Regions from separate parts of the Homo sapiens genome. Here regions 1, 2, 3, 4 and 6 are each reported to be linked to region 5. Evidence: microRNA targets listed by miRTarBase, many of them from high-throughput screens and not tested one by one. Region 5 holds a microRNA gene; each other region holds the end of a gene's coding sequence.
The links. The annotated mature microRNA hsa-miR-185-5p reads UGGAGAGAAAGGCAGUUCCUGA and lies in region 5 at 2,002-2,023, opposite strand. An mRNA with a match to its seed (bases 2 to 7 or 8) in the 3' UTR can be bound and repressed. Matches are read on the target gene's strand: a 7mer-m8 pairs with bases 2 to 8, a 7mer-A1 pairs with bases 2 to 7 and ends in A, and an 8mer does both.

Region 1: the mRNA of MSL3 is a reported target of hsa-miR-185-5p. The part of its 3' UTR that is shown has no 7-base or 8-base seed match.
Region 2: miRTarBase lists DLGAP4 as a target of hsa-miR-185-5p. Seed matches in the 3' UTR shown: 7mer-m8 at 3,418-3,424.
Region 3: the mRNA of DLG5 is a reported target of hsa-miR-185-5p. Seed matches in the 3' UTR shown: 7mer-m8 at 1,584-1,590.
Region 4: the mRNA of POGK is a reported target of hsa-miR-185-5p. The part of its 3' UTR that is shown has no 7-base or 8-base seed match.
Region 6: miRTarBase lists ADD2 as a target of hsa-miR-185-5p. Seed matches in the 3' UTR shown: 7mer-m8 at 4,091-4,097.

What each region holds. Positions count from the first base shown.
Region 1 is chrX:11,774,078-11,779,150 of GRCh38, forward strand. It overlaps MSL3 (MSL complex subunit 3), which reads left to right. Exons shown (of 13, transcript NM_078629.4): 13 at 903-1,695. The coding sequence ends at 1,002. Among named protein-coding and RNA genes, the nearest start is that of MSL3, 18 kb to the left of the region's middle.
Region 2 is chr20:36,526,600-36,531,672 of GRCh38, reverse strand. DLGAP4 (DLG associated protein 4) reads right to left here. Exons shown (of 13, transcript NM_001365621.2): 13 at 3,040-4,860. The coding sequence ends at 4,642. All of the region lies in intron 2 of DLGAP4-AS1 (DLGAP4 antisense RNA 1), which reads left to right. Among named protein-coding and RNA genes, the nearest start is that of MYL9, 12 kb to the left of the region's middle.
Region 3 is chr10:77,788,278-77,793,350 of GRCh38, reverse strand. It overlaps DLG5 (discs large MAGUK scaffold protein 5), which reads left to right. Exons shown (of 32, transcript NM_004747.4): 32 at 808-2,560. The coding sequence ends at 911. Among named protein-coding and RNA genes, the nearest start is that of DLG5, 140 kb to the left of the region's middle.
Region 4 is chr1:166,849,433-166,854,505 of GRCh38, reverse strand. POGK (pogo transposable element derived with KRAB domain) reads right to left here. Exons shown (of 6, transcript NM_017542.5): 5 at 4,083-5,073; 6 at 1-1,921. The coding sequence ends at 4,097. Among named protein-coding and RNA genes, the nearest start is that of POGK, 12 kb to the right of the region's middle.
Region 5 is chr22:20,030,103-20,035,175 of GRCh38, reverse strand. MIR185 (microRNA 185) reads right to left here and starts at 2,037; the gene lies at 1,956-2,037. The region is part of intron 1 of TANGO2 (transport and golgi organization 2 homolog); the gene reads right to left. RefSeq lists enhancers at 920-989, 2,673-2,892, 3,327-4,023.
Region 6 is chr2:70,659,294-70,664,366 of GRCh38, forward strand. It overlaps ADD2 (adducin 2), which reads right to left. Exons shown (of 16, transcript NM_001617.4): 16 at 1-4,442. The coding sequence ends at 4,132. Among named protein-coding and RNA genes, the nearest start is that of ADD2, 110 kb to the right of the region's middle.

The DNA.
Region 1 (5,073 bases), not on the chromosome of region 5:
TATGTATATTGAAGATTCTTGAATGACCAGCACATTTTTAACATCCGTCTTCATACATATGAGTCTTTCCTGTGTCTTGGTACTGTTAGCTAGAACTGTAACATGTTTTGGCATGGCAAATTAGGACACCAAATGCCATTACTAGTTGTTCTGTTCAATTTTTGTATGACTTTGCTCATATAAATGATGTACATTTCTGAAGTGAGATTTATTGTTTATAATCGTTTTTTATTTTTTATTTTGTTTATTTATTTATTTTTGAGACGGAGTCTTGCTCTGTCGCCTGGGCTGGAGTGCAGTGGCGTGATCTCGGCTCACTGCAAGCTCTGCCTCCCAGGTTCATGCCATTCTCCTGCCTCAGCCTCCCGAGTAGCTGGGACTACAGGCACCCGCCACCACGCCCAGCTAATTTTTTGTGTTTTTAGTAGAGACGGGGTTTCACTGTGTTAGCCAGGATGTTCTCGATCTCCTGACCTCGTGACCACCTGCCTCGGCCTCCCAAAGTGCTGGGATTACAGGCGTGAACCACAGTGCCCAGCCTATAATCTGTTGTTTTTAATAGTTTGTTTGAACAACAGAAAAATGTAGAAACATTCATGGGCTTTTTTTTTTCCGCCCCCAACAGAAGTGTTTATATAACCAGACTGCCACCTAGTGGAGTGTAGGTTCTGTTTCCATTTGTACACCTGATGATGGTGAAGGCATTCAGATAAGTAGTAATTCACATAGAAGCTGGATAAGTGCAGTGAAAATAATCAGTATAGAGAGATCAAAATTATAGTCATTTTTTTCTTCCTAATACCAAAAAACAGTTGAAATGTTAGTAGGTTGAAAGTCAATATTTTGCTTGATGGTATTTAGTCCTTAGTATGGTGCTCATTGGGGCTATTTTTTTTTTCCAGGTTTTTAGCAGAATACCACGATGACTTCTTCCCAGAGTCGGCTTATGTCGCTGCCTGTGAGGCACATTACAGCACCAAGAACCCCCGGGCAATTTATTAAAATGTTGTTGGTTCTGTAAGAGCAACTGCTCTGTCTAGTTTGGCGCTCTGGGTTCCAGGTGAATAACTAACAAGGTGGTGGGTCTTTACCCACAGCGCAAACACAATGCCCACCTTGGGGCTCTGTTGTTTGAGTTGCCCACATACTGCAGTTATTCTGTTAGGAATGATTCCCTGGGTGCCTGAAAGTGCTCTGACACGACACTTGTTACTTTGCAGGCCATCTGTGATGGCAAGGAAAAAGCAACTATGTTCACAGTGAAATATTCGTGGAATAGGTTAGGCCATTTCAGTAGACATTGCAGTTAGTTAGCAAGAACCACATTGTCTCTTTATTTGTTAGCATTAAACAAATTTTTTTTTGCAAATTGGTTTTATTTTTTTGATGAAGCCGAGCAACTCTGTCCAAAAAGGTTTAGTTTGTACTCGGAAACCACAAAGTAGTCTCAAAGTATTTTAGAGGGAATCGATATTGATGGCAAAAGAAAATTTGCAGCTATGCATTTGCTTCTAACGGTTCCCTCTCTGTGAAACATTATTTTTGGTGATCTAAAGAAAGCATTGCCTTTCTTATTTGAGATTTTACAGCTATACTTTGTTGTGTAATGTTATGGTTCCCTTTCTGTAAAATGTTATTTTTGGTGATCTAAATAAAGCCTGTCTTGTTTGAAAGAACCAGGAGAGAGAGTTTTCACTCTGGCCTTGTCCTCTTTAATGCAGGGTAACAGTGGGGTAACCTTTTGACTCATAACTTTAGGTTTCATTTTGTTTTTCCTTTGTGCCTTTTTTTGTTAAATCCCTCTTTGGTTTTGCCTCACTTGGCAGCAGGACCAGACAGTGGTTCCTAGAAGTTCCTGCAGTTCTGTGCTGTCTTGTTGCTGCATTGTGGTCTCATCTGGGGCTAACACCAGCTTATCCTCCTCCTCCCTCATTACCAACTGACAGTCTCTGCAGTCACTCCTCTAATCCTTATTTTAGTCGCACATGCCTCCCCTATCTTCAGATGTTTTAGAAAGTTCTAACTTCGTAGAAATGGTATCAGTACCATACCAGCATTGAATATAGCACCTGCCTTGTAACTCAACTCAGCAGACCTTAACTTCCAAAGATCACTGGTTGTGAACAAGGGCCACAAAGATTTTTTAAAAATCTGTAGATGGTTTCATCAAAGTGACTTATGCATACACTGACCAATGAGAATTAATACTGTGCACTTAGTTGCTAAGTTAGACGTGGGTTTTGGTGTCTCATCCGGAGTAGTACTCAGGTTCCTGGTAGCTTTTATCTCCATTTGGTTTATGCAATGCTTGTTTGAATCTGGCGCACCTGCAGTGTGCTCTGAATTGCTTAAAAAGCTGAATCAGTAATTACTTATGGCCAGGAAAAGGAAAAAGATTTTCCTTTGTAAGACTCAACTTGTTTAAATGTCTCCAATGAAGTGAGCACAGACATTTATATAGGCACATACCTTGAGTTTACAGTTAATTCATTTTCTAATAATGAACAATTATTTTCTTCCCCTGAAGGCATTTCTTAAATATAACTTCAAAAGTTGATGATGTGGCCGGGCGCAGTGGCTCACGCCTGTAATCCCAGCACTTTGGGAGGCTGAGACAGGCGGATCATGAGGTCAGGAGATCGAGATCATCCTGGCTAACATGGTGAAACCTCGTCTTTACTGAAAATACAAAATAATTAGCCGGGCGTGGTGGCGGGCGCCTGTAGTCCCAGCTACTCGGGAGGCTGAGGCAGGAGAATGGTGTGAACCCAGGAGGTGGAGCTTGCAGTGAGCTGAGATGGCGCCACTGCACTCCAGCCTGGGCAACAGAGCGAGACTCCGTCTCAAAAAAAGAAATAAAAACAGTTGATGCTGTGCAGCTTTGGTTGATTTAAGTACTAATTTTTCATCAAAACATCTAACCCTCTATTGTTTATTACTAATAATTCAAAATATTCCTCAGATAAAAATATTTAAATGTCTATATAATCCTTATACAAATTACAAATTATCTTCCTTTTGTTAATTTTTAAATTGTTACTTTCTTAAACTGCCAAACCTTACAGTTGTTAAGTCTTATATTCATTGTCAATGTTTTCCTTTTAGTAGTAATTTAAAGGCATGTTGAAAACAATATTTCAATAATTTCTGTATCAGACCCTTGTACTAGATCTTTGACAAAAACTTGTGAGAACAAAAAAACCATTTCTGAGCAGAAATGGAATATATAAATCATTCCAGGGTATGACGTACACTAAAGAAGCCAAAGAAAACTTATCAATTTATAAAAGTTGCTGTCTCTCATTAGATATTGTCAACTCAAAAATTTGAACAAGTATAATGACCCTGTTTTGCAGTTAAAAAGATAGTTCAATAGCCTTTGCCCTTTAAGATTTGGCTTGTCAACAGTTAAGTTTTTCTGAGCAGTTATTGACTACTTATTCTGCTGCCAGAAACTACTAGGTATTGGAAACGGGAAGAAATAAGGCATGGTCCTTGTTGGAATACAGTTAAGATAATTTTTACAGGCACTGACCATCATTTTTACTAAATCAAGTTTGGTATTAAGGAAGTGTGTTACTTTAATCAGTTCATAATATACAAAAGTGTAATGTAACCCATAAAGGTCAGCATTTTCCAAAATTAACCCTTCCATTGTCCCAAAAATAAAGTATGCTTCTATTAACTGGTTTTCAGTGCAGAGGGTTTGATCATTGAATGTTTTCATCAGTTATGAAATCTGGCCAAGATGGTGTTAAGGAACTTGATATACACTTGGGTAAAGGGGTTTCAATAGATTAAGTTGAAAGCAATAACTTGGAAATCATGTTTATACTCCAAAGAAGCAAGAAACTCCTCAATAAACTAGTTAAATCTTTTGAACTGGATGACTTTAGTGTGTATTTGTTTTTATGTTATTCTGGTCAAAAGACCAAGTGCTTCTCTGGAATCCACCTTCTAAACTCAACATGAGTTTATCGATGGCTATTTCTTGCCTTCAGCCTTCCCTCCGGTGTAAATTATGGGATATCTAACCAATGAGCAGAATACAAGTCCCCAGCAAATTGTCTCAGGGCCTGGGATGTACCTAGCCAGCACCACTCCCTTTGCATGGTGACAGGCACAGCAACTGGGAGGCTATCCCACATCATATCCAGAATGGACATGTTGCCAACATGCATCATACGTGGAAAATACATGTGTTAGATCTTTCATCACACAGTGAGGAATGCAATTACTAGAAATGGGTGAATAAGCAAGAGTTCACATGTAGTTGAACAGTTGGGTTGCTGGAAATCAGGAGACCTTTCCTACAGGATGATGCTTCTCCTGCTTTGATGGGCAGTCTTGCTAGAATGTGGGTTCTGAGTCAGCCGGCCTGAACTGCTAGTGAGCTCCCAGTCATGCTGAGGCTGCTGGCCCTCAGTCTGCACACTGAGCAGGCAGGTTCTGAGATATTGTTTGAGGGGATAGGATGTACGAAATCGGGTAGGAAGCAGGATTCAGACATAGTCAGTCCTTTCTGCAATACTTTATGTTCTTCCTTTTGTTCTCAGGATAGCTACATAAGGAAGGTATTATGTCTTACATAAATCAAGGAATTAGAATTCAGATTAGTTAGAAGCAAGAGAGAATTCAAACAGATCTGTTTTGATTCTAAAGCTATTTCACTGCAACTTTTTCCAAGCCAAGGCAAGACAATAGGCAAGCTTTATGGGTCAGAGGGTAGAGGAAAGAAGTAGGGAAACATTTGGAATCATTTTTCTGCAGTCTCTCCACTTTCTCCATCTTCTTCACCCTTCCCACGTGTTCCCAGGATTCTTACTGTTTTAAACTGCCATCTGCTTGGCCATTTGCTTGATTCTGGTATTAAAGGAAGAGGCAGTTGTTAGTTTAAGGCTTTATCGTTTAGGTAGCTAGATCTAAACTGGATTTATTTTTTGTAATTCTGAAATATGAGGGCTGATTGCAAAAGAAGAAATCTATTAAGTTCATCCAAGATTCAATGACAACATCTTTCACTGACCACACTTTCAAGAGTTTTAGAGATGTTTGGCTTCCTAGAGGATTTAA
Region 2 (5,073 bases), not on the chromosome of region 5:
TCTGTGGTCATATCCTGCAGCCTTTAGGAGGGCACTTCCTGTCTGTCCCTGTCCTGGTTCCCTCAAGGACTAGGCTTTGGAAACACAGAAGCTGAGGACTCATTCCCAGCTTCTCTGGGAAGCTGCTGTCAGCCTTTCTCTGAAGTGACAAATGCATCCTTGATGGAACAAGATACAAGGACATGGGACATCATCTAAGTCATATTTTTGTGAAAACCATTTAATCTGAATCCGGCCATGAGAAAACGTAAACCCAAATAGTGCACCATTCTGTAGAGTGCGCTTGGATACTTTAAAAACACCAACATCTCAGCTGGGCGCGGTGGCTCATGCCTGTAATCCCAGCACTTTGGGAGGCCAAGGTGGGAGGATCACGTGAGGTCAGGAGTTCAAAACCAGCCTGGCCAATATGGTGAAACCCCATCTCTACTAAAAATACAAAAATTAGCCAGGTGTGGTGGCGGGCGCCTATAGTCCCCAGCTACTTGGGAGGCTGAGGCAGGAGAATCTCTTGAAGCCAGGAGGCGGAGGTTGCTGTGAGCCAAGATCGCGCCACTGCACTCCAGCCTGGGTGTTGCAGTGAGACTCCGTCTCAAAACAAACAAAATAAACTAAAACAAACAAAACAAAAAACAAAACGCCATCAACATCTCGAAAAACAAAACCCAAAAAGTAGGGAAATTTTGATTTTTAAAGAGACTAGAAGGACGTGGTGGCCTGGCATGGTGGCTCACACCTGTGATCCCAGCACTTTGGGAGGCCAAGGCGGGAGAATCACTTGAGCCCACGAGTTTGAGACCAGCCTGGGCAACAAAGTGAGACTCCATCTCTACAAAAAATTTTAAAATTAGCTGGGCATGGTGGCATGTACCTGTGGTCCCAGCTACTTGGGAGGCTGAGGCAGGAGGATTGATTGAGCCCAGTTGGTTGAGGCTGCAGTGAGCCGTGATCACACCATTCTTTGCACTTCAGCCTGGGCAGCAGAGTGACACCCTGTCTAAAAAAGAAAAGAAAAAACAAAACAAAACAAAACCAGACAGACATGGTAACTGAAAGCAGTGACTGATCCTTAATGGGACCCTGGATGGATAAAAGGGAGAAGGTATAAGGGACAAGGTTGTGAGGGCACCTGGCGTATGGGCTGTGCTTTAGGCCATATTCATATAAAAGGAGGTGCTCCCTGGAACATTCCTTTCTTAAGTTTGAGGGTGGTGATGGTATTGTGGTTGTGCAGGAACGTCCTCGTGCCTGGGAATTGCATGATGTGTTTTGGGGTGAAGTATCAGTGTATGCCACTGACTCTCAGATGGCTCGCGGGGAAAACGATGTGTATGTATCCGAGAGGGATAATGCTCATATGGGTGAAATATCAGTAATCGGTGACTCTGGCCGCGAGATATGTGTTCATTATTATACTGTCCCTTCAATGGAGGTGGCGTCTTCTCCACTGCTGTGCCAGGAGGGCTGGGCGTGGGGGTCCAGATTCTGTACATCAGACACCCCTACCCCATCTTGTGCTTAATAGAGTGCAGGATCCCTCCTGAGACCCTAATCTAACCCTCAAGTCCCTTCCCCTGCCACAGCAGAAGCAGGAAGGCTAAGGGTCCATCCCCAATCCCCATGGCCCATCCGGGAGAGCCGGCTGCTAGCTGCACCCCTGAACGTCTGCTTCAATGCCTGATGCAACTGGAAACCTCTTCACTTACCCTTCAAGTCACCCCCAGCTGGGTCTCAGGGTAGGGGTAGGTCTGGGAAGGTGCCAGCCCTGGAGTTAATCCAAGCCACCTGTGGTCACCAGATGCTCTGTCACCACTAACAGGTGTGTTGGGATCCGGGGTCAAGGGCTGCTCCAAGCACAGGGGTCTGGCCACAGTTCGGATGGGCTCCCAGGGGGCTCGCTGGGGTGGGCGAGGTAGCCTGAACAAAGCTGCTGGGAAGGCAGGGTCCGTGCATCCCCTGGGCCTGAGATCACGAGCTTCTTGGCTGGCTTGGGCCAAGGGAGGAGACCAGGAGTCTGTGGCTCCAGAGCCTGGCCAGAGAACTTTCTAAAAGGCATGTTCCGGCCGGGTGCGGTGGCTCACGCCTGTAATCCCAGCACTTTGGGAGGCCAATGGGGGCTGATCCTGAGGTCAGGAGTTCAAGACCAGCCTGGCCAACGTGGTGAAACCCCCATCTCTACTAAAAATACAAAAATTAGCCGGGCATAATGGCAGCCTCGGGAGGCTGAGGCAGGAGAATTGCTAGAACCCAGGAGGCGTAGGTTGCAGTGAGCCAAGATCGCGCCACTGCACTCCAGTCTGGGTGACAGAGCAAGACTGTCTCAAAAAAAAAAAAAAAAAAAAAAAAGGAAAAGGTATGTTCCTACCACTGGGGCTTGGCACCTCCTGCTTCTGCCAGGACTGCGTGCCGCTCCCTCCCTGAAAGCTGGCTACCCACTCATCCTTCTGGTCTCTACCAGAACACTCCTGCCCAGGCTGGGTTTGGTGGTCGCGCTGCGGGGTCCTGCAGCCTCATTCTGCTGCGTCTTGTTTTTTACCACCTGTCATTGACTTGACCTTATCTGTCACGTTCAATATCTGTCTCCCTCACCAGAGCGAGCTCTGCCCCAGCACTGGGCCTGTAGAGGAGGTGCTCTGGAGATGCACTCAGGGCTCGCACCTGACAGAGTGGAAGCAGCTGCCAGGCAGGGGGATACCGAGTACCCCACCCTGGAGAATGTGCAGACTGTGGATCTGTGGGGGGTGTAAACTGTCCTCTAGGGTCGTCTTTATCAGCCTATCCTGGCTCCTGTGATAGCATCTATCTTTCAAGGGTTTATTTCAAACAGGAAGCTGGTAAGTGCTGCACACTGATTTTCGGGAGAGGGGACGGTCAGCTCCATCTTCCCGCCCCAGATCACAGAGCTGGCATGTGACAGCTGGCATCCCGGCTGGCACTCCCATCAGGCTGTCTCCACAGAGCTGCCTTTTGGGAGGGGTCTGGTTCAGTTTCCTGGGCCCACTCTGCTCATCCCCCTGCAATAATGCCACAAGCCCTTGGTACACGTTACCTCATTTATTCTCACAACATGCCTGTGAGGTAGGGAGGGGCAGGGACTGTCCCCGTTTTACAGAGGAGGAAGTTGAGGCACACAGAGGTCAAGTGACTTGCCCAAGGTCACAGACGGCGGCCAAGCTGGAAATGGGCCCCGGAGCAGACCCTTGGTTCACCTGGGGACGGGGGGGGGTCCCCCCCTGCAGCAAGCGCCAGCCAAGAGGATGTCTCGGATGCCAGAGAGGCGCATACACAGCATAGAGCAGCCCCTCAGGTACTGAGCTGGCTTCGGGGCTCAGCCCCTGCCCTCCCCTACCCCGCCCTGCAGGCCCGGGCCATTGCAGCTCAGGGCTCGTGACACCCTGGGAGTGGGATGCGGGGGCAGGAGAGAGAGAAGGATAATTGGGGTTAAAAAAAAAATAGAACAGAAAACTCAGAGGCTGGGCAGATGGGCCCTTAGGAGTGCGGGGCGGGGGGAGGGGGGTGGAGACCAAAAAAAAAAAGGGCTGCTTACACACAAGGTATATATTTTTACACACACTTGTACACACACCTAGATATAGTACATGTAAAAATATATGCTATTCACACACCCGCCTCCTGCCAGGTGCCCCGAGAGCCAGCGGCGGCGGCGCTGGGTGGGCATGGGTGAGCAGATGGGCGTTTGTTAACTATACACTCTAAGGTCTATGTGCATATGTACACATACATACAGACACCGCCGCCCGCCCCTCGGGCACCGGACACAGGCGCGGCTGAGGACTGACGGCCCCCTGGAAGCCACTCGGGAGTCCTAGATTTTGCTGAAGGAAGAAGGGGCTGGAGAAAATAAAAGGGCAGGAGTCTGGAGTGTGATAACTGTGGCTTCGTCTCATTTCCACCCGCCAAGACTAAAACTTCCCTCATCTGCTCAGCGGTGAGTGAGTCCTGCCTGACACTGCCCAGGGCTGGCGGGGCACCTCCCAGTGAGGCGCCTCCATCTGCGTGTGTGTGTGTGCGCGTGAGGTTGTGTGTGAGCACTTGGCGGGGGGAGGGAGGGGACGCATGTCCATCTCTCTGTCCTCTGGGCCCTCAACCGCAGAGAGGGCTGAGACCCAGAAAGCCGCTTGCCACAATGGTGACCACTGTGTGAGCTCTGAAGGGAAAAGAGAAAAACATAAGAATGAAAATCAAGGTCAGAGCGGGGATAGCTGGGGAAAGGAGGGACATGGCAGGTGCCCAAGGCTGCCCTTGGACTGTCGTCATCTTGTAAACAAGCTAGTGTGAGTTCTCATCAGATAGAACGAGTAAAAAGACCGCAGTATGGAGGCTGGGCCGGGAGTTGCCGACGTCCATCTATCTAGTCCACCACGGCCAGCAAGAGGAAAAAAAAAGTTTTCTAGTTTCGTGATTTTTGTTGATTTTTTTTGTGAGTAAAATCTTCATAACCTAAAGCTGGGAGGGACCCAAAAAAGCCAAATTGTGAGCCCTTGTATGCGTCAATTTGAAAGTTGGCTCAGGGTCTCTAGACAGAATAACCATAGCAAAGGTTGAGAAAACTCTGTTCCGTTCGCACTTAGTTTTTGTGTTTTTAATGATTTAAAATCGTTTCTTTCCTCCTGCATGGTCTCAGAGCCTGGTCTGGGCCTCCGGGACATAAATCTCGATGCTGTCTGCGCTCTCGGTGGCTGAGTTCTGCCGCACAGAAGCTGCCCGCTTGGCCGCCAGGAGTCTCTTGCGGGCCTCCTGGCGCTGCTTGTCGCTGGCGTCTGAGGCCTTGTCGCGGCTCACTGCCGGCTTGGATTTGGCTGGCTTCTTTGGGACCGGAGGGGGTGGTTTCTTCTCTTCCTTTAGTGAGACAGTGAGGAGAGAACAAAAATAAAATAAAGGTGCCACGTTTTGTGTGGCACTACCCCCACCATATGCCGGCAGCTGGAGTCTCCACCCCAGCCTCCCCGCATCGGGCACAAGCAACACACACTTGGAATCAGGAAGCCACGAGAAGCGATGACTGACAGTGGGAAGAGCTCAAGGCACTGGAGCAGAAAGCAAGCCTAGACT
Region 3 (5,073 bases), not on the chromosome of region 5:
GTCCAGGGACCTGGGCTTGGTGCCCATGTGTGTGTAGGTATGTGCAGGTGTGCATGCCTCTGTGTGTGTGTGTGTGTGGGTGTGTGTGTGAACTTTCATTTCCAATTCCTCACAGACTGGTATTTAGCCAAATACACTGACAATTCCTAGAGAGATGAAAATTTAAAACTCTAAGTCTTGCAAAAGGTAAGCTCTATTTTTTTCTTGTTAGATTCAACAGACATAAAATTACGACGTCCTGTTTCCATAGCAGTTTCTAGACACTCACTGTCAATTTCTGAGCATGCCTTGTTGCAGTAGGGGCTTGGTTTGTGTCCAGGTGCTGTTATGTGGAGCACACTGGAGTACCCCTGGCCTGGTGTCTATAGACCCCTTTGTCAAACTCCTATAGTACAGGGCTGGCCCAAGTTGGCGCCATCATCTTTCTGTGACTCTCCTCTTGGCCATGAGCTATCTGGCTCCTTAAACTTGTCGTTTCCTGCAGAATCCTGCTAATGATTAGACCACCGCCACATGTCCTCCAAACTTCCTTCTGATGCCCTGGGATTCCCCCAACCATTGCAAACCCAACCCAGGGTGTTAACTGCAGTGGGGTGGGCAGTTTACATATGAGTGATCAACTCAAGAGGGGCAATTTTCTTTCCCAGTTTCTTGCTGGTGAAGGAGAGTCAGGTGGGGATGGAGCAGAGTGCCAAGGAGCACAAAGCAGACAGCCACACAGTAGAAAGAGTGCAAGCTGTACTGCCTTGCCTCAAACCTGGGGTCTTACTCTGAGCTGAATGACGTGTCTGGGGGGCTCTTTTGCAGGGGTCATCCAGGGAGGAGCCCTGTCAAGCATTTGCACTCAGATCTTGGCAATGGTCAATCAAGAACAAAATAAAGTCCTGTGGATTCCAGCCTGCCCGCTCTAGGAGAATGCTGTGCTGTGGATGACTGCAGCTGGCCGCCTGAGGGGACACCAGACTCAGCTCTTTTCTAGCGACTGAAAGTAGAAGTCTGTCCGTCTATGAACATGCGGGGGAAGGATCCGGAACCAGGACCCAGAAGCACCTCCTTTGTAGACAGAGGGCCACGGCTGCGTGCGATCCAGGCCCAGGCCCACACACTCTGCCCGTGTCACACGTGTGCTTTAACACAAAACAGATAACACTAAAGACGGGTTCAGCACCCACCTTTCTTTAGCCAGCTGATCAGAGATGCTGCAAAGAGAACCTTTCGGATCACTCGTTTACAAGCCTTTTCTAAGTATTTGGTGGTTTATGTTTACTTGAACGGCTCCATGTTGCCGGTGCCCAGCCCCTGTCCCCTCTGTCAACCCCCTGTCGCTTTGGTGTTGGTTTCGTTCCCGTCTTCAGCAAAACGACCTTGGAACCTCAATGGGGGCTGCTTTGCTTTGGGAGGTTCTTGTTGGTGGGACCAGAGCTTTGACAAACCTCCTGCTCCTTGGTGGCACCTCTCCTGGAAGGACGTCACAACTCCAGGTGCTCAGACTGCCTGTGGCAGCAGAACCAGTGCCTTTGGCATTTTCCTCCCACAATGGGGAAGGTGACTTTGGCATTCTTACAAACTCGTCTCTCGGCCTTTCTCTCCTGCCTTCCACAGCCTCTCGTTTCTCCTCCATCTGTGCTTATTACTTGAGGACTGTGTCTGCTCCGTGAGAGCTGCGTGGGCAGGGCTGCAGTGGGGTCCAGGTGGTGTTCAGCTGTGCTGATGCCTGCCATTGGGTCCTCCTTAGGCTCTGTAAGTCGTGACAGCCTTCATCAGTGCAATGTTTGCAGGGTAATTCTTAAACTTTTTAGAGGGTGGCAGGTACATCAGTTCTTTTTGATATGAAAACATTCATGTTTCAGACATTGAATTGAGAGCTTTTAGGGGAAGCATAATGGTTATTGTCACTATCAACAGTCTAAAAAGAAAAACTGAGGTCTTTTTAATCTTGATTACAGCACTCACGGCATGCACCCTACTCAGTGTGGGTGTCTTCGTTTGGGGGCTTTTTTTTTTTTTGCACTTCTGAGGCTAGATATGTCTGGCTGAAGATTTGATGTGGTTCCTCCTTAAGCTATGCGTCCTGTTAATAATAGGTACTGTACTGGGCTCTGTGTAAGTGTCGTTGGGGTAGGACCTATATTTTAATACTGTTCCTAACATTTCATTTTACTAGCGAGAAATCTTTGATTTCATTTTATTCTTTGTAATTCTAGACACTAGATTGTAGTTTAGCCATAACTGATGTTTTTTAAAAAGGGATATATTTTCTTGCACAGTTGTTCAAAAAAGAGACAAGTTTCAGTCCTCAATGCTGTCCTTTGTTTTACAGGTACAAGTTTTCTAGCTCAGACAAACTATGAAAAACTGTAGACTATTCTCAAGGTATTAACTCGCAGACCCTCTGGGGGTAGGGGCTGTTTTCTAAGTTACAGGCAGAGTGGGACTGAGATGGTACAGTGTGCACAGACAGGTACTGAGCTGACAGACTGGGATTTTCTGTACTAAAATGTTACTTTGTATCAAAAGTTAAACAGGCTTTAGTACAACAAATAAAGGTCAATTTCTGTAAGGCTGTGTTTGAAGATGTGAGTTTTTAATCTCTTCCTAGTCAGTCAGCTTTCCTGTATTTCTAAACTTGAGACAGCTTCTCCTCTGCAGCACGTAGCTGGAGTTGGCTGATGTGTAGGTTCTTTCTGTCTCACATGACAATTTGCAGTCCCTGCTACCCGCTGCATCAGCCTCTCTCTCACTCCTTCCTGCCCTTCCCTGCCACCCATCTGTCCAGTGTGGCATGAACTGGTGACTGCAGCCAGGCTGCCCATCTGTGTGAGACCCAGATTCTGCCCTCTGGCCCTCACATTCAATTCTGCAGGCTTGGGAAAAGCAAAAGGGAGTGAGCTGAGTGCTCTGGGTAGCATTCTCAGTCAGGGCCCTGTCTGGGGCCCTTGGCTGGGAATGGCCCCACCTGCTTGGGGGCTGCTTTGTAGTACCTGACAGCATCACACTGGGAGATCACCCAGCATTGCTGGACTCCCAGAACAGCCCACGTGGGCCTGAACTCCGTGTTGCAAGGTGATGAGGAAGTTGGGAGGCTGGGCCTTTAGCTGCAGGAAGCCAGGTTGAGGCCTGGGGCAGAGCAGAGCCCTCCTTCTCTGATCCTTTTTCTTGGAGGGGCTTGGGGGCAGAATGTTCTCCAGAAGCTTCACTCACACTCCACTGGTGGCCAGGCTGGTGGGGGCAGACTGATGTGGATGCCTCCCTCATCATTTCCTGCTGGGTGAAGTTCCACTGTGGCCCTGCAGTCTTGATCTCACCTGTGGCCACGGGGTGTCACAGAGCTGTGCGGGGCTCTGGTAGTTGGAGTGGGCCCTTGTGTCCATAGGGACAGGGCCTGCCTCTGTCTCCTTGACAGCCCACACCCTGCGCCATCCTCAGAATGGGCAGCAGAGCCGTTGATATATTTTTTTTTTGAGACGGAGTTTCGCTCTCGTTGCCCAGTCTGGAGTGCAGTGGCATGCTCTCAGCTCACTGCAGCCTCTACCTGCTGGGTTCAAGTGATTCTCCTGCCTTAGCCTCCTGAGTAGCTGGGATTACAGGCGTGCGCCACCACACCTGGCTAATTTTGTATTTTTAGTAGAGACGGGGTTTCTCCATGTTGGTCAGGCCGGTCTCAAACTCCCGACCTCAGGTGATCTGCCTGCCTCGGCCTCCCAAAGTGCTGGGATTACAGGCATGAGCCACCACTCCCGGCCTAACACGATGGATTTTAAGTCACTGACTGGGCAGATGGGGGTGTAGGGGTTGGGGTGGTGGCTGCTGGTTTTAGGGCTGGTTTCTTTCACAGAGCTCAGGTGTGATGCCAAACCTTCACAGTTGCACTTAGGCCATCGTGATTTTATTTTCTTCTTTAGATTTTTCTGTAATTTCCAGATTTTCTACAGGTACCTTGGTTTTCTTTTATAATTACAAGGGGGGGAAAATCCTATGTCTTTTTCAGGTGGAAGGCACTTAAGTCACTGAGATCGCTCTTTCTGGACACACGGGCCTTGCAGGGCAGCCCCGAGACATGCTGTCAAGCAGCCCTGAAAGGATTTGTACCCTGGTGGGTTAGAGGCTTATTTACCCCACATGGAGACTGTGCTGGGGGGCGGGGTTGTGGGCACAGCCAAATGGGCCTCCTCCTGGAGGTGGTGTCTGTCTCACACTGGCTCAGATCATTCTGGAAAGGCAGAGCAGATTCTTCAACTCCAGCCATGAGACCAAGAAATTGAATATGAGATGACCTCTGCGGCCCCTTCCCATGCTAACAGCTATGATTCTGTGATATGGGTGGGCAACAGGACTCAAATGGAGCTTGACTTTGCTCCTGGCCTAGCAGAGACTGTGGGAAACCCCAGCTTCAAGGCAGGAGGAGACCTCATGCTTAGGCGCCGACCCTGAGCAGCTCTGGAGTAGAAGCCGAGCACCGGCCAGAAGCCTCAGGCCTTTCTTTCCAGCCAAGACAAAGCTTTGAGGCTCAACAGCAGTGGGCTAACCAGAGGCTTGGGGAAGCCGAGCTGCCACCTCCTGTGGGGTTGATGAGACACAGGGCCACAAGGGTCATGATGTCAAAGATGAAGAGAAACGTGAAGTACAGGAAGGGATGCAGAGTGAACATAAACCGCAGACAAGGGTGCACGTGCTGGCGTGGGAACGGTGGACCTCTCAGCAGATGGGGGCTCCAGGGTGGGTGGGCCTTCTGTACTGCCCCCTTCTGCTACTTTTCTGGCCTGTGGGTTCCCTCACCCTTCTCTTGTCCGTCCATACTCTTTCATTTGCTCTCCCTTTGTAGAATATAGTCTCTGGCCTCCTGATGGTTCCCCTTTAGTTCTCCCTATTACTATGTGTTTTTATCTCTTTTTCTCCCCAACTGTGAAAGATGTCATCCATAGAGAAGAGCATATCCAATATAAGTGTATAGTTTTGTTATTAAGTAGAGATGGGATCTTGCTATGTTGCCCAGGCTGGTTTTGAACTCCTGGGCTCAAACAGTCCTCCCACCCTAGCCTCCCCAAGTGCTGGGATTACAGGCATGAGCCACTG
Region 4 (5,073 bases), not on the chromosome of region 5:
CTAATAGGTAAAGAAATAAAATCACCATAGCCTATTGTCTTTATTATCAAAGTTTATTGTTGGGGTCAGTTCCTATCTACTAGGGAGTACAACTATATCTCAATATGTGCTATAGTAATTCTAGGGTAACAGCCATTCTGCAAAATAGTTGTACTGGGGCTCTGTTAGGCATAGATCATAATTAAGTCAGTGGAAGAATGAGCCCAGAGAAACCCTGGCAGCAGAGCCGTTACTCTAGGAAAGTTCCAGTGCTATGCAACCTGTAAGGCATCATCGCTCAGCTGATGATGAGACTCACAGAGGTGTTGGTGGAGCGAAACAGGAGTTGAACCCATTTTCTACTCTTCTTGGCAGGGTAACTATGGCTCCAAGGAAGGAACCCAAAATTAGGTCTTGTAAAATCTTTTAAGCTCCCAAAGCAAGAGAAATAAGACATGAAGAAAGAGCCAGTAACTAGGACAGATGAAAAATTAGGTGGAATTGGAGGGAATGGAAACTTCTGGAATGCAAAGTAGCTGGGTTTAGACGCCATTTGAGATGACCAAGAATACAGTACAGGTAAAAGCAAATGGGGCAACAATTCAAATATTGAGTTGTTCAAATACTAGAGGTTAAGTAAAATTTCCCCCCTTGGGGGAAAACTGGTTGAAAAGGATCAGAAAGGTGAATCAGTAACAGGACAATGAGTACCTGAGTAGAAATAGGTGTTTCAAGATGCCAAGAACAGTTTAAATATACAGGTGAGCTGAGTCTACAAGAAGGAAAAGTGGTTATGGCAGCCTGTTTCCAGATCTGATCATTGGAATGACATTTCTAGCAATGGCTTTGTCTGTGAGGTCCTGGCATATTTTGTGTAGCACAGATCCCTTTAAAGGAATGTTTTCGTAACACTCAAACTTATGTGGGAATGCAAATTACTATAGTGTAAAAATTCAATGACTTCCCACCTATTCCTGCAGGGCAGGAGATCAGAAGTCTTAAAACAGCTGTGGCTAAAAGCCCAAGCCCTCCCACTGCCCCGTGATAAAAATATTAAAGAAATTAACAAAACAAGCATCAGATGAGTCAATGGGCCTTGTACCATGTAGACAACAGATAATTTATAGCGACTTCTTCTGCAGGCAGCCTGAGAAACAAGAGCTTGCATACGAAATCCTGCCCTATCATTAAATATAATAATGAAAAAAACAGGGCCATTAAATGAGACCCTAAAAAAGTCTAGCTGCCAATCAGGTTGGGAAGATAAATAAAACAGCATAGTTTATTTTAACCTATATCTTCCACACTAACCTAGTTTGTCTATAGAAAAGCCATCTGCTGGCACCAGGCCAGTATGTCTTAATTTTCTTGTTATTCTAAGTATCTCATTTTTCCAAAAGAGGAAATGTGTAAGTAGCAGGTGTACATAGGTGACACATTTCTACAAAGCCTTCTCTGTAGTCTTGACCTGTGTGGGGACAGGGTCTACTTTTGGAAGCATTTTCAAAGGCAGAATAAAACTTTACTTGAGGTTTTCTCCATAGAAGGACACCAGAGTTGTGCCCATATGATGAGTCCCTCGTTGGTGTTGAATAAATTGTCTTTTCTCCAGGAAATAACCTTTGTTCTTTCATATTTACAGGTTTCTTTTGATGGACAGATGGAGTAATCTCCAAAACAAGAAATGGGGCAGAAGCAGTTTCTTTTCTGATCATGTCTCTGATGAAATGATAGGTCCTAGACTTTTCTGATACCTTGTATGGTGTGGGGAGGGGCTGGGCTGTGTCCTGGGATGGATGTACAGGCTGCTGTCTGGACCGGGGCTGTTCAGAGCCCCGTGGCCTTTTCCTGATGTTCCCTGCGCATCCAGCGCATCCACACTTTCAGGAATAATCATCTTGAGGAATTTCATCCCCAGCTGTTTAAATCAGAGTTCCATTTGCTGGAAAACAGAGAGAACCTAAATGAATTAACCCTTGGCTTTTTGGTATAACTTTTAACAAACATAATAATTCCATCATTCAGATTTCCAAATAGAGGCCAAGACGTAGTTTTATGCCCACTTGGTCTCCCAAATCTCTTGTTCACTGTGAATCTGTCTACTCCCATCACTTCCTCAGGAGCTGCAGAGAGAATTGTGGCAGACTAGAAGAGCAAAAGCTCATGACCAATATTACAGGCCAACATTCATAAATGCAACTTAGCATAGCTTTTTCTCCTTTCCTCTTCTGGAAGTTTTTAATCATGTCCCTGAGGTGGTAAGGAGCTTAGGAAATTAAAAGTGCACAAAAATGTTATCTAACAAGGAGAGGGAAAAGCAAAAGGTAAATGAAGAAAAGATGGAAACTCAATGTAATTCAGTTTGATATCCAATGCAGGCAATATAAGGGTCAGCAGAAAAGGGAGGCTGGATTCATGGGGTTTCTCAAAGCAAGGAGGACCCAAGGGGGAAAAAAAAGCAATTTTGGTGATTTTGAATGTAATAGTAAGAACTTCTTGCTCCATTGTAATTCCAGGGATCCCAGAATTACAATGGGATTCAGCAATATGAGTACAATTTAATTTGGAAGCAAGGCAGGAGACATAAGTCACTCTTTGAAACACAGATGGACTTATATAGCTGAAGTGGGTAAAATAAGGCTCCCATTAGCATTTCATTTGGAGAAAAAAGCAAGGAAGATGGAAATACCTAATTATACTTTAAAAGAAAGAAAAAGAATGTGTGAAGATGGTTGACGGTTTCAGGTCCTCTGTAAAAAAGGTGGCTTCTTCCTTCATATAAAACACTGTCTGGAGGATCAATTTAATTTATAATTAGGGAGATGAGAACGAACAGGTAAATGAATTGTTTGTTCTTTGTGGGTGTCCCCCCTGCTGTACATGCTCATCCTCCTCCTCTCTGGAGGTGTAGGTGGGTGGGGTCATTTCACTAGTGTTGTCTCAGTTAGGCCTCCATTCCTACTTTCCTTTGAAAGCTGTTCTTCTTGTGTACTCAACCCAGAAAATTCCAGGCCTATTGTCCTCAGCCCTCACTAGAGTCCTAGATACGCACCGTTTTATTTTCTTTTTTTGGTGTAAAGATTCAGTTAAAAAATATCTTCCTTCAGACATCTGCTGACTACAGGAAATTATTGTCATAGCCCATGTGAAGGTCATAATGAGACTAAGATGACGTTTTAAAACTCCTGAACTCTGTAGGGAAAAGCAAGTAGAAGCTATTATTCTTACTCGCTGGTAACATACTGTAGATAGCTCCAGGACTGAGACCCGAGGCCCGGAGGACACACTTAGTGTTCTCCCTATGTCACAGTCCTACAGGCCAGCAAAAGTGAGTACAACTGTCCCAGCATGTCAGTTACACATACTGGCCCTAAATGTTCAGCATAATTTAAAAGGGAAAGAAAAAAGTTGGCTTTTCAGACAAAATTTTGTGTGAACTGAACAACGTCAGACTATGCTTCTTTGGGTCCAAATAATTTTAACTTTACAGCTCTCAGATGTTCTGGCAGCTCATTCTTTGTTCATTTCACCTATTATACAAGTGTTTCTGGGTCCAAGCCACAGAGCAAAATAGACACAAATAAATCAAATAATAAATGTTTCATATAAAGGAGAAAATGCTAATGGTCTGTTATCTATACCAGCAGTCCCCAACTTTTCTGGCACCAGGGACTGGTTTCATGGAAGACAATTTTTGCAGGGACCCAGGAAGTGCGGGGTAGTGGGTGGTAGGATGGCTTTGGGATGAAACTGTTCCGCCTCAGATCCTCAGGCATTGAGGAGCCTGCAACCTAGATCCCTCACATGTGCAGTTCACAACAGGGTTTGTGCTCCTATGAGAATCTAATGCCGCTGCTGTGACAGCGGGCGGAGCTCAGGTGGTAATGCTTGCTCACCTGCCGCTCACCTCCTGCTGTGCAGCCCAGTTCCTGACAGGCCATGGACCAGTATGGTCCGTGACCTGGGGGTTGGGGACCCCTGATCTACACTACTGCACTGTAGGCTCTAAGGGAACTTAAAAACAGAAAAATAATGGAGAGAAGGTGTTTGTAGAACACAGACATGTCAGCAAAGGCACTGAGTATCTACTCCTGAGTGGTTACCTTTCCCTTTCCCTTCAGTTGCTCTCAGCCATGCTTTCGGTGTCACAATCTTTTGGTGGTTCTCCTCCTCCTGGCAACTCACTCTCGATTTCCCACAGGACATCGTCTTCCTCCTCCAAGTTGCTGGAGATATGGCACTTCTTGAACCCTTGGACGATGGACTCACTTGAGATGCTATTCCACGCGACCATGACCCACTCCAGAAAGAGGCCCAGGGGTGGCTTCTTAGCATTCCCGGTTGGGCTCAGCGCCAGGTTCCCAGCCAGAAGCCAGTTGGAGTACTGGGCCCGCACACTGTCATTCAGTGGCTTGTAGACCACGACATCCAGCACCTGAAGCTGTGAGGTCAGACCCCCTGGGATGATCACCATGTCAGTGTTCATGCTTTCCATGGAGTTCTTCACGGAATCTGTGGCATGGCCCCGGAAGCCATTCAAGATCAGCATCCCTCGCTGCTTGGGCACTGCTCCTGTCCTCCGTCTCCACACCACTTCCAACCAGTCCTGCATCAAGTCTTCAGTCATCCACCCATACCGGTGGCAGCGAATTTCCATCCCACTGGGAAACTTCCCCGGGGGGATATATGTTCCCCTCAAAATGATGTACGGTGGTAACTTCCTCCCATCAGCCAAGACACCAAGCATTGCTGTGATTTTCAGTTTTTCCCTGCCTGGTGTCTTGACCAAGACAGGCTTTTCGCCCTGGTTATCAACAGTTACCCGTGATGGCACCTCTAAACAAATGGGCGTCTCATCTGCATTCCCCATCTGAGCTACCTCATAGTCATGCGCCCTGCGCAGAGCCAGGACACTGCGCTGGTAAGTGACGAGTTTCTCAGTCAGGTCTTCCGGCAGGTGCTGGGGCACGGGCACTTTATGCCTCAGAGACAGGTCATACCTTCTCATCATTCTTCGACACCAACCCAAGCTTGCCTTGAACCCTTTCTCTGGAATGTTCATTTCCTGGGCGATTTCGAGAGCTTTCAGCTGCA
Region 5 (5,073 bases):
TGGGTCAGGGGGATGGGCAGCCATTTGAGATGGTCTGCTGGCCACCACTCTGCATAGGATGGGAAGCTAAAGGGTGTGTTGTTGCAAGGGGGCCCTGTGGGAAGCAGACTGTGGGGCTGGAAGTGGGTTGGGTCCCCTTGCCGGGTGCCCTGGAAGCGCCCACAGGGGGCCATCATCCGAGGGTGGGCAGGCTACTAGGGGCAATCCTTTTGGTAAAAACAACTCAAGATGCTGGATGAAATATGAAAACATCTTAAAAATTGCCAGGAGCTGATGAGCTCATGCAGCATTTGGCCAACAGTTCGGAGAGCGTGGCCCACAGAGGACAGCAGAACACAGTGGCCAATCCTGCCTGAGAGCGTTTGCCCACTGAACACACTGGGGCTCATACTCTGGTGGCCTCGGGGGCGAAGGAGACAGAAGACAAGGTCCAGTCACCCCCACAGGATGAAGAACCTAACAGAAGACTCTCCTCTAAGTTAGGCTGGGACTCCAAAGAGCGATGCTTAGGGAGAGATGAACTACAGCCGCAGCCACCCCCAGGGGTTATGGGGACATTGCACATAAGTGAAGGGAAGTTTCTGAGAAGCTGTGGCACAGCCAGCCGTCCAGGTCCACACTGGGGGTACAAGGACCCACAAGCCAAGCACAGTTTTAAGGGGTTCCAGCACTCGTAGTGCCCCTGTGCCTGAAGTTCTCTCTGGAGAAAGATACCTTCATCCTATACTTCAAAGAAGTCTCAAAATCATTTTTCAAAGACCAGAAGCAGTACATAGTCAGAAAGAACCACATAATGAAAGAAGCACCATGAGCAAGAACCAGCAGAAAGATAACCGTACATGCATCATCAACCAACCATGCTCTGATGGCAGAAAGAAAACAGACAGCTCAGAAACATCTGCAGGGCAAAGGAAGTGATGAAGAGCAAACTGGGTTTACAAAGCAGCAAAAGGAACTCGGTTTTTTTTTGTTGTTGTTGTTTTGTTTTTGCTCCTGTTGCCCAGGCTGGCTGGCATAATCTCGGCTCACCGCAACCTCCGCCCCCCGAGTTCAAGCAATTCTCCTGCCTCAGCCTCCCGAGTAGCTGGGATTACAGGCATGCGCCACCACGCCCAGCTAATTTTGTATTTTTAGTGGAGACGGGGTTTCTCCATGTTGGTCAGGCTGGTCTCCAACTCCTGACCTCAGGTGATCCACCCACCTCGGCCTCCCAAAGTGTTAGGATTACAGGCATGAGCCACCATGCCTGGCCAAAAGAACTCTTAGGAAGCTATTTTAGAAATGAAAGCTTCAGTGACTGCACATTAAAGCTCAGCTGTGGGTTTAAGAGCAATCAGGTGCAGCTGATGATGCAGAACCATCCCGAATGCAGTGCAGGAAGATGGGGAACACGCTGGGCTTTGGGAGTGCACCCAAGGTGCCACTGATGGGGTGGGCCCAGCACTCACCATGTGGCCAGAAGACACAAGTCCCTTTACTCTGGAGGAGCTGGTCTTTCCTGCACATGAGAACCCCTGGCTGCAGTCACTGGAGAAGCCCTGCCAGCTGGTCTCTACTGGAATCCCACTGGCCTGGAGCCCAGGGCTGCCCAAGGCCTGCTCACCAGGGACATGCTCCTCTGGGGTGTTAGAGAAGGCCGTTGGTCTCAATCAACTTCAGCCGACCTCAGCCCTCCCTGGGCTGCACGCCCAGCTGCTGGCAAGGCCATGGATGAGGGCAGTTCTGGCCACTGATACACGTAGGACAGACAGGCAGAAAGGCACCCCCAGTTCAGCTGCAGGACCCCACCATCCTAGCTGGCCAGGGTGCAGGGGCAGCAGACCAGCCCTCCAGGCACCAGTGGCAGGGAGGGCTCCATGGTCCAAGGGAAGGCCATAAACAGATCTCCGGACAGCCTGGCACTGGAGGTGTGGGCGCAGAGCCAAGGGCTGTGGCCTCGACGAAGACGCGGTCATTGGGAGGGAAGGACCAGAGGAAAGCCAGCCCCTGGGGAGGGGACCATCAGGAACTGCCTTTCTCTCCAATCCCTCGCCCCCTGCTCGAGCCAGGCCCACTGCCCACCGGCCCCCAACCCAGCTCTAGCCAGCAGGTCTCCCCCTCCCCCTGCCAGCTTCACCTCCCCCGACCTGTGACCTTGCCTTTGCCTGGGCCCCTGTGTGCTCCCTAAGCCAAGCCCTGCAGGTTCCCTAGGTCCTACAAGGTCCCCACACAGGCCCACCACAGCATTCCAACACCCTCTCATGCCTGCTGACTTGCCAGGCTCTGGGAGGGAGCCATGGATATAGTCCTTGTCCTTTTGGTCACCATATCTTGATCTGGGCGCAGGGCATGTGGGCACACGGGTGGCCAGGACCACTTCCCACAACTTCCACAGGTCCCATCACACCAGGTGAGGCTGGGCTCCTCAGGGCATCTCTTGTGCCACACAGAGCTCGCCCTCAAGGTTGCCCGAATTGGCCAACTCTACAGGAGGGTTGGTGTCCCAGGGAGAATCGTGCCTGGCTTTCCAGGTGAGGCTCCGCCCTGCCTGTCCCCACCCCTGCCCTGGGCTCAGCACTTGGGCCAAGCCCAACCAACTCTCAGCATGTCCTTGGCAGTCCAAGAAGGCCAGAGTGGTCAAAGCCATGCAGGGTTGGCCCTGAGGCCCAGGCGGCCAGAACCAGACCACAAAGAGCAGCTGGAGGAAGAGGCAGGCAGGAGGGTCTGGGGTCCAGTCAGCAGCCTTGCCCTGGGTCTCAGAGGCCACAGCCCAGAAGCATCTGAACATCTGCAGGAAGCCACGCCCAGTCTCTGCATCCTGCACAGGACCCCGCCTGCCCCAAGGGGCTAAGACCACCAGGGCAGCCTGCACACAACCACCAGGCTTGCAGAAGCAGTCAGATGGCCACACGCCCATCCTCTCCAGGCGGAAAATGCTTACCCCTCTCCATTCTGTCAACTGGCCTCACGGCCACCGGGATAGCAGTTGGGCAAGTAGGTTACAGGGCGGGTGGGGCAGGTGACGCAAAACCTGGCTGCCAGGGCGGGTCCAACCCCAACCGGAAGGAGGCTGGGCCAGGGCACCACAGGTGGGAAGATGCTGATGAGCTCCTCCCTGTGCTGTGTGCTCTGCAGCTGTGATCTCATCTCAAGAGTCCCAGGTCACATGGCAGGGATGGGCAAGGTGAGCCTGGAGGGGCTCATGGTGGGGCACCTGCTGGTTGGGCTAGAGGTGAAGAAGCAGTGAGCTGGCCACCCCGAGCAGGCACACGTGGGATGCTGGGATCAAGTGGGCCTGCTGGACCCTGCACCCACGGCCTGGCAGCCCCTGAGAGAGTCAGGATGGCCTCGGCACTGGATCTGTTCATTTGTAGCTCTGCTCTGCCCAGCCACGCTGTGGACACTCCTGGAAGTCAGCATGCTGCCTTCTGCTCTCTCATAGCAGGATCTGCTGATCCCCGCCAGGGTGCAAGAGGTCCCTGGGCAAGCTGGTGATGGGCAGCCAGCTTCCTCCTGGCCATGGTGGTCACTGTGTTCACATGTGGTCCTACTAGAAACATCATCTTGAAAGCAACTGGCATGACACAGGCACATGGCCAGGCCTCACCAGGCCCACAGGGATGGAAGAGCCCAGATATGTAGCCCAGGCTGACAACAGGAGGCCGTGTGGGCAGCAGTCGAGAGGAGCCATACTTCAAGACTGAAAGCAGAGCCTGTGAGGTGGGCAAATGTCCTGCCACCGACCTACGACACCAGCACAGCGCAGCAGGGCAACGTGGCATGGTGGTGAGGTTCCTGAGCCAGGACAAGAAAAGAAGCGTTGTTCTCATGGCTATTTGAGGAAGCACATCACCTCCACTCTGTCGCCCAGGTGCAGTCGTGTGATCATAGCTCACTGCAGCCTCGAACTCCTGGGCTCAAGCCATCCTCCCACCTCAGCCTCCCAAGTAGCTAAGATTACAGCTGCATACCACCACACCCGGCTAATTTTTTTTTTTTGAGACAGAGTCTCGATCTGTCACCTAGGCTGGAGTGCAGCGGCGCGATCTCAGCTCACTGCAGCCTCCTCCTCCCTGGTTCAAGCGATTCTCCTGCCTCAGCCTCTCAAATAGCTGGGACTAGAGGTGCGTGCCATCACACCCAGCTAATTTTTGTATTTTTAGTAGAGATGGGGTTTCACCATGTTGGCCAGGATGGTCTCGATCTCCTGACCTTGTGACCCACCCACCTTGGCCTCCCAAAGTGCTGGTATTACAGACATGAGCCACCACGCCTGGCCCTAATTTTTAAATTTTTTTGGAGAGGTGGGGTCTCATTATGTTGCCCAGGCTATTCTCAAACTCATGGGCTGAAGTGATCTTTCCACCTCAGGAAGTCTTAATGACTGGGTAGTATAAGTGACATCCTTTTAAAAAATTTTACAGCAACTGCTGGTTGGGCGAGGTGGCTCACGCCTGTAATCCCAACACTTTGGGAAGCCAAGGCGGGTGGATCACCTGAGGTCAGGAGTTTGAGGCCAGCCTGGCCAACATGGTGAAACCCCATCTTTACTAAAAATACAAAAATTATCACGCCTGTAATTCCAGCACTTTGGGAGGCCAAGGTGGGTGGATCACGAGGTCAAGAGTTCGAGACCAGCCTGGCCAATATGGTGAAACCCTGTCTCTACTAAAAATACAAAAATTAGCCGGGCGTGGTGGCGGGCGCCTGTAGTCCCAGCTACTTGGGAGGCTGAGACAGAAGACTTGCTTGAACCCAGGAGGCAGAGGTTGTAGTGAGCCAAGATCGTACCACTGTCCTCCAGCCTGGGCAACAGAGCAAGACTCCATCTCAAAAAACAAACAAACAAACAAACAAACAAATTAGCCAGGTGTGGTGGTGCGTGCCTATAATCCTAGCTACTGAGGAGGCTGAGGCAGGAGAATCACTTGAACCCACGAGGTGGAGGTTGCAGTGAACCGAGATCGTGCCATTGCACTCCAGCCTAAGAGACAAGAGGGAAACTCCATCTCAAAAAAATAAAAATTAAAAAAAAAAAAAAAAAAAGCAACTGCTTACACGAGAATGCCCTCTTTACAAGAGTCCTGGTGCACC
Region 6 (5,073 bases), not on the chromosome of region 5:
GGCAAATGGTTCTTTCAAATCCATGGCAATCAAAGAAGTGGATTTATAGCATTTTCCCCCACACTAGCAGTAGCCCTGCTACAACAATGCCAAACATCTGAATGACTGTCTTGCCATGTCACCATGAGCAAGTGACGGTATCATCCACAGGGAATGGGATTCAAATTCAGTCTACATGGATCAGTGGCAGAGGGCAGTGCTTTACAGTGGGGTTCTTACTGTAAGAACTTACTGCTCTTCATCCAATTTCCCCCAAGTCCTTTAAAAAGAACTTATCTGTTCACAGAGGAAGAACCCTGTTTTAGTTATAGGAGAGTGGAGGGGGTCAACTGGCCAAAGTAGGACAGTTACTTGGGTTGCATGCAGGCCAGGAGGCTCTTAGGGAGTCCAGATCTGGGCTAGAAGGTGTCTCTTTCTGCAGTTTGGGAGGAAGGTCACATGGTATGGACGGTTCTCTCACACCACTGTTGGGTGCAGCCAACACTACGCAAGGAGCCGTTGGAGCCAAGCCTGTCTCTGCGAAACCACTAATCCTTCTTGTCCTCTCTCCTCCTGCCTGCCTTGCGATGGAAATAAGCTCAGAAACCTCTCCACTTCCCAGCTCAGCCAGCCACAGAGCAGCACATTGGTTCAAATGTTACCCTTTTCTCTGGCACATCCAAGCACAGTAGCTCAACCAGACATGAACCTACTGCCCACCAAATCTGAGCTCTTGAATACACATTTTCTCCAGTCAGATATTGGTCAAAGTTTTCAGCCAACTTTTATCCACAGCCAAAGAAAATGGCCTTTCCTTTCTAATAGCCTGTAGATTTGTTTGGACCACATGTCTGTTTCTGTAGCATTTGGTGCATGTCCTCAAGCCTGGAGCTAAATGTGCCACATTCTGTGCAAGGGAAGAAGAAATGGCAGGATGGCTGGACACCTCTCCCAGCAATTCTACACCAAGACAAAATAAAACTGGAAACATTAGCTCTTTGAATGCTCCCCTCTCCTTGTTGAAAATCCCTCTTAAGGTGCTTTATCCAAAGACTTTTATGGAAATAAATTTTGTGTTGGAAACTCACTATCTGCTGTAGAGGAAACATCGTGTAAAGCAGGCCATCAACTATGTTTTAGTATTGACATTTCAAAAAGGCCTCATAGCTCCCATGCCACCATCCCACGCCCATCCAGTCCACAGTCTCCATTCAGCCACCAAAGGGATTTTCCTAAAATGCAATTCTGATCATGACTCTATCCTGATTTAAAGGCTCCAGTGGCTCCAAACCCCTTCCATGACAAGTCTAGCTCCTCCACACTTCCTACCAGTTTCCTTAGGATTCAGCCCTGCCTACCTATGAAGGGACCCCTCAACCCCTGAGCTTCCACATCATGCTCTGGCAATGCCACGTTGCTCAGCGGAACCCATCATGGCATTTCATGCGTCCACACCTTTGCACATTCTTCCCTCATTGTGGCATGCCCTGCCAATCCTTTCATTCTACTGGAAATTTACTCTTTGTTTTAAAACCTTAGCAGCCATTGCTTCTCTCAGGGTTTCTCTGGTCCCCAAGATAGTTAATTGATGCTTTCTTATGCCACCTTGGTACCCTTGCCTGTTTTGCAATTTGTCTATACACCTCCTATGCTCATGAACTTCTTGAGGGCAGGAACTATGCCTATCCTCATGCCTGGCCCTTGACCCAAGCTCAATGCATGTTTTTGGAATGCATGAGGAATGAACCAACTGACAGGTTCATCTATCAATAGAAAGTGGGCCCATGGCATAAATTCCCAGAATAATGCTGCAGCAAGACTCCACCCAATGAGGCCTAAGTGAGGCCTCATTGTCAAGGGAATAGAGTGTGTTGAATGCAGAGGCAATCAACATCACCCCCGAAGTAGAACAACTCGCACACAAAAGGCTGCATCAGAGGTCGTGTTCACCATTCTCACAACATCGTTTGCCACTTATTATTCTAGTCATAATGATGGCTCTCTTTCAACGTCAGCATAATGCCTGGTGCTCAGTGGATCCTTAACAAATACCATGTAAGGATAAATGAATAAGTGTGAAATCTACTTTTTAAAAGAAGGCATCAAGGGATTGGCTTTTAAAGGCATTTCCCATATGACAGATTTTTCTGAGGCATGAGTGGGTTGTCCCTCCTAAAATTTGACCCAATCAGGAAGTAGAACAGAGATGGAGCCTGGGGTAGCAGTTAGGAATCTGCACTAGAGAGACACAGTGTCAGGTTTACCTTGGTCCTAGGTCAGTTTCCTTCCTTCTCAAGAAATAGCCAACTATGGATGGTATTTCCCGCCCCAACCAGAAGGCTCTTGCCTCTCCTTTGTCAGAGGCACACAGTAGCATCACCACAGTCCACATTGACCAGGAACTTCACGTGCAGTGATGAGGATGAGCACAGGGTGTTCCCTACCTTTGCTTCACGTGCTAACATTATGCAATGGAGAACAGTCATAGAGACAAATCCTGGATGAAAACCACCACCCCTGGGGATTAAAGTTGTCTGTTCACCATAGCTGTTAAGAGCAAGGGCTCTGGACTCAGACTGACCTGGATTCAAATCCAGGATCCAGATCTTTCTAGCCAAGTCAGCTGGGACAAGTCAATTATCATTTTAGGGGGTCAATTTCCTCACCCACAAAATGGGAATGATCTTACCCCCCTCAAAGGATTACTGTGAGGGTTAAAGAATGTAATGTATGTGAAGCCTGCACAGTGTCTATAGATAGCAAGTGCTCAAAAGTGGAAAACTATGATTAAGAACTTTCAAAAATATTTTCACGATAGTCAGATCAAAAGGAAAAATATTCTTTCAAGACACGGTGCTTTCAAGAGAATGGATTGTCTAATTTTTAGGAGCCAACAAATGCTCATTAATCAATGCCCCACGGAAGAACATGAGAAGACAGTGTTGGCATTTAAAACAATAACTGTGGCCATTACCAGGCCCCAGGATGGACAGATAGGGACAAGGACAGGGATACCCAGCATTTCTCTGAGAGCTGGTGCAAGAGGATTAATCCTGAAGGGCTCATTTCTGATTCTCCTCTGCTGGACAAAGAATGACTGAGTTGGAACCTCAGAGGGTGCAAGTCAAGGTGCCAAGAGTAAGATGCCAGTTTCGGTCTGTAAGCAAGTGTTTCTGGGGGTGAGGGAAGGTCAGGGGAAACCTGACCACTGGACAGGAGTGAGGCAGGTACAGTGCATTGCTCCAGGTGTCATGCAAAGCTAGAAAGTCAGCATTTCCTCTGTTGTTTTGATCCTCCTTATACAACCCAAAGCCAACAGAGGATTTCAACTTCCCCAAATTTCTGCCCTGAGCATTAAACAACTTTTTCCTATGCTAAATTTGGTTTTAGTTTTGAAGTGCCTGAGATGCACAATTCAAAGGGGTCAAGTTCCTGGCCTCTTATGTTGATGAAACCATCCCCAATCCTCAGCTTACATGGCTTGCCCCTATGCCTACCACCTCTTATAGCTCTTCCATCCATCATTCAAGAGGTTCCATGAAGAAAGCTCAGGGTTAATGTTTGGGGTAGTACAAGCTAAGCCATCAGCCCTTGGGAACAAAGATTACTTTCTGTTGGAGGGGTCAATTTGGCTAGTCACTTTGAGCAGCAGGGCAGGGACCCAAAGTGGAAAAGAGAAGAGATTTTTAAATGTAGAGATAGCTCCATCCACAGGAGATTGGATTCCTGGGAAGAAATGGACCTTACTCAGGGGAAGCCTTGACCTCTGATTTAGTCTGAGCCTGTGAGAGCTCACGGCCCATTTCTGGCCTTCTTGCCCTAGGCTCAGATTGGTGGACAGCATCCAAACAAAGGCAGCCCACAACTAGGCAGTGTTGTGTAGTAGAAGGAGCACTGGACTGGAAGTCAGGAGACCTGAATTCGAGTGCAGGCTCTGCCGCTAACTAGCTGTGTGACCTTGGGCAAGTCACCTGATTTCTCTTGGGCAACTGTAAAACGAAGGGTTGGTCGGGTGATCTCTAAGTTCCCCTTCCGAATGTGGTCCAGGGTCCTACTCTATCCCTCCTTAGCCCTGTGCTTGCAGGGACAGAGATGGGAGAAGGGAAGGGGAGGAGAGAGAGGAGGCAGGAGGGAGCCCAAGGGTGTCATGAATCAGGACTCCACTTTCTCCTTCTTTTTGCTCTTTTTCAGGAAGGAGGGGGTTCGGAATTTCTTTTTCTTCTTTGAGGGAGACTTGGAAGGTGAGCCCTCTGGGGACATGGGGCCGCTGGTGACCGACTCGGTTTTGTCCTTAGAGGTATCAACATCCGTGTCAGCACTGGTGGTCATCTGGCTCAGGCCTTTGCTGAGGATTTCCTCTGCCGTCTGCTCCTCCTCCCTCCCGTTGACCACCACCCCTTCCGGCTGGGTTGTTTCGGGCTCTGTGGTGGCGGCTTTGCTTGTTTCTGTCTTCTTAGTACCTTCTAGAAAAAGATCAAAAGATATGACCTGTAAGATTTCATTCAGGTGACAGCTTCCACCTGGGGCTAACAGAACCATTTCTAGGGAATTCTATAAAATCAATCCAGAGCGAGGGGAGGGCCAGCCTGATGTTGAGGGATGGCTACCAGAGACAGATGGAAGGACTGGGTTCTGATCTGCACCTTCCATGTGGCCTGTCCTGGGAACACCCCCTTGCAGGCTGGCAGCTCTGGGCTCTTGTCTATGAATTTAGATGGATATTAATGTCTGAAGTGGCAGGAGGCCCGGCTGGGGTCCAGCTCAGAGTTTTTCTAGGCAAGAAAGAAGAAACAGACACAGAGAAAGGAGAAGGCGTGAGGTGTACAGCTTGGTGGAGACATCTAAGCATTGCTGTAACCAGTTTAGTTTCACCAATAAAAACATGGAAATTACATGTCCTCAAACCCATTTCATTTTCTACACCAGTGAGGAACTCCAAGAAATATGGAGAATATCTTCCCAGTAGGCAGAGGGAGAGTGGAATTCCTTATATAACACAGACCCCATATTTCCAAGACATGTTAGTCAAAAGGGGAAGACCCCTGGTCAGCCCTTTCTAGCAGCCACTGGGGCCCCCAGGTCTTTATTCCACCT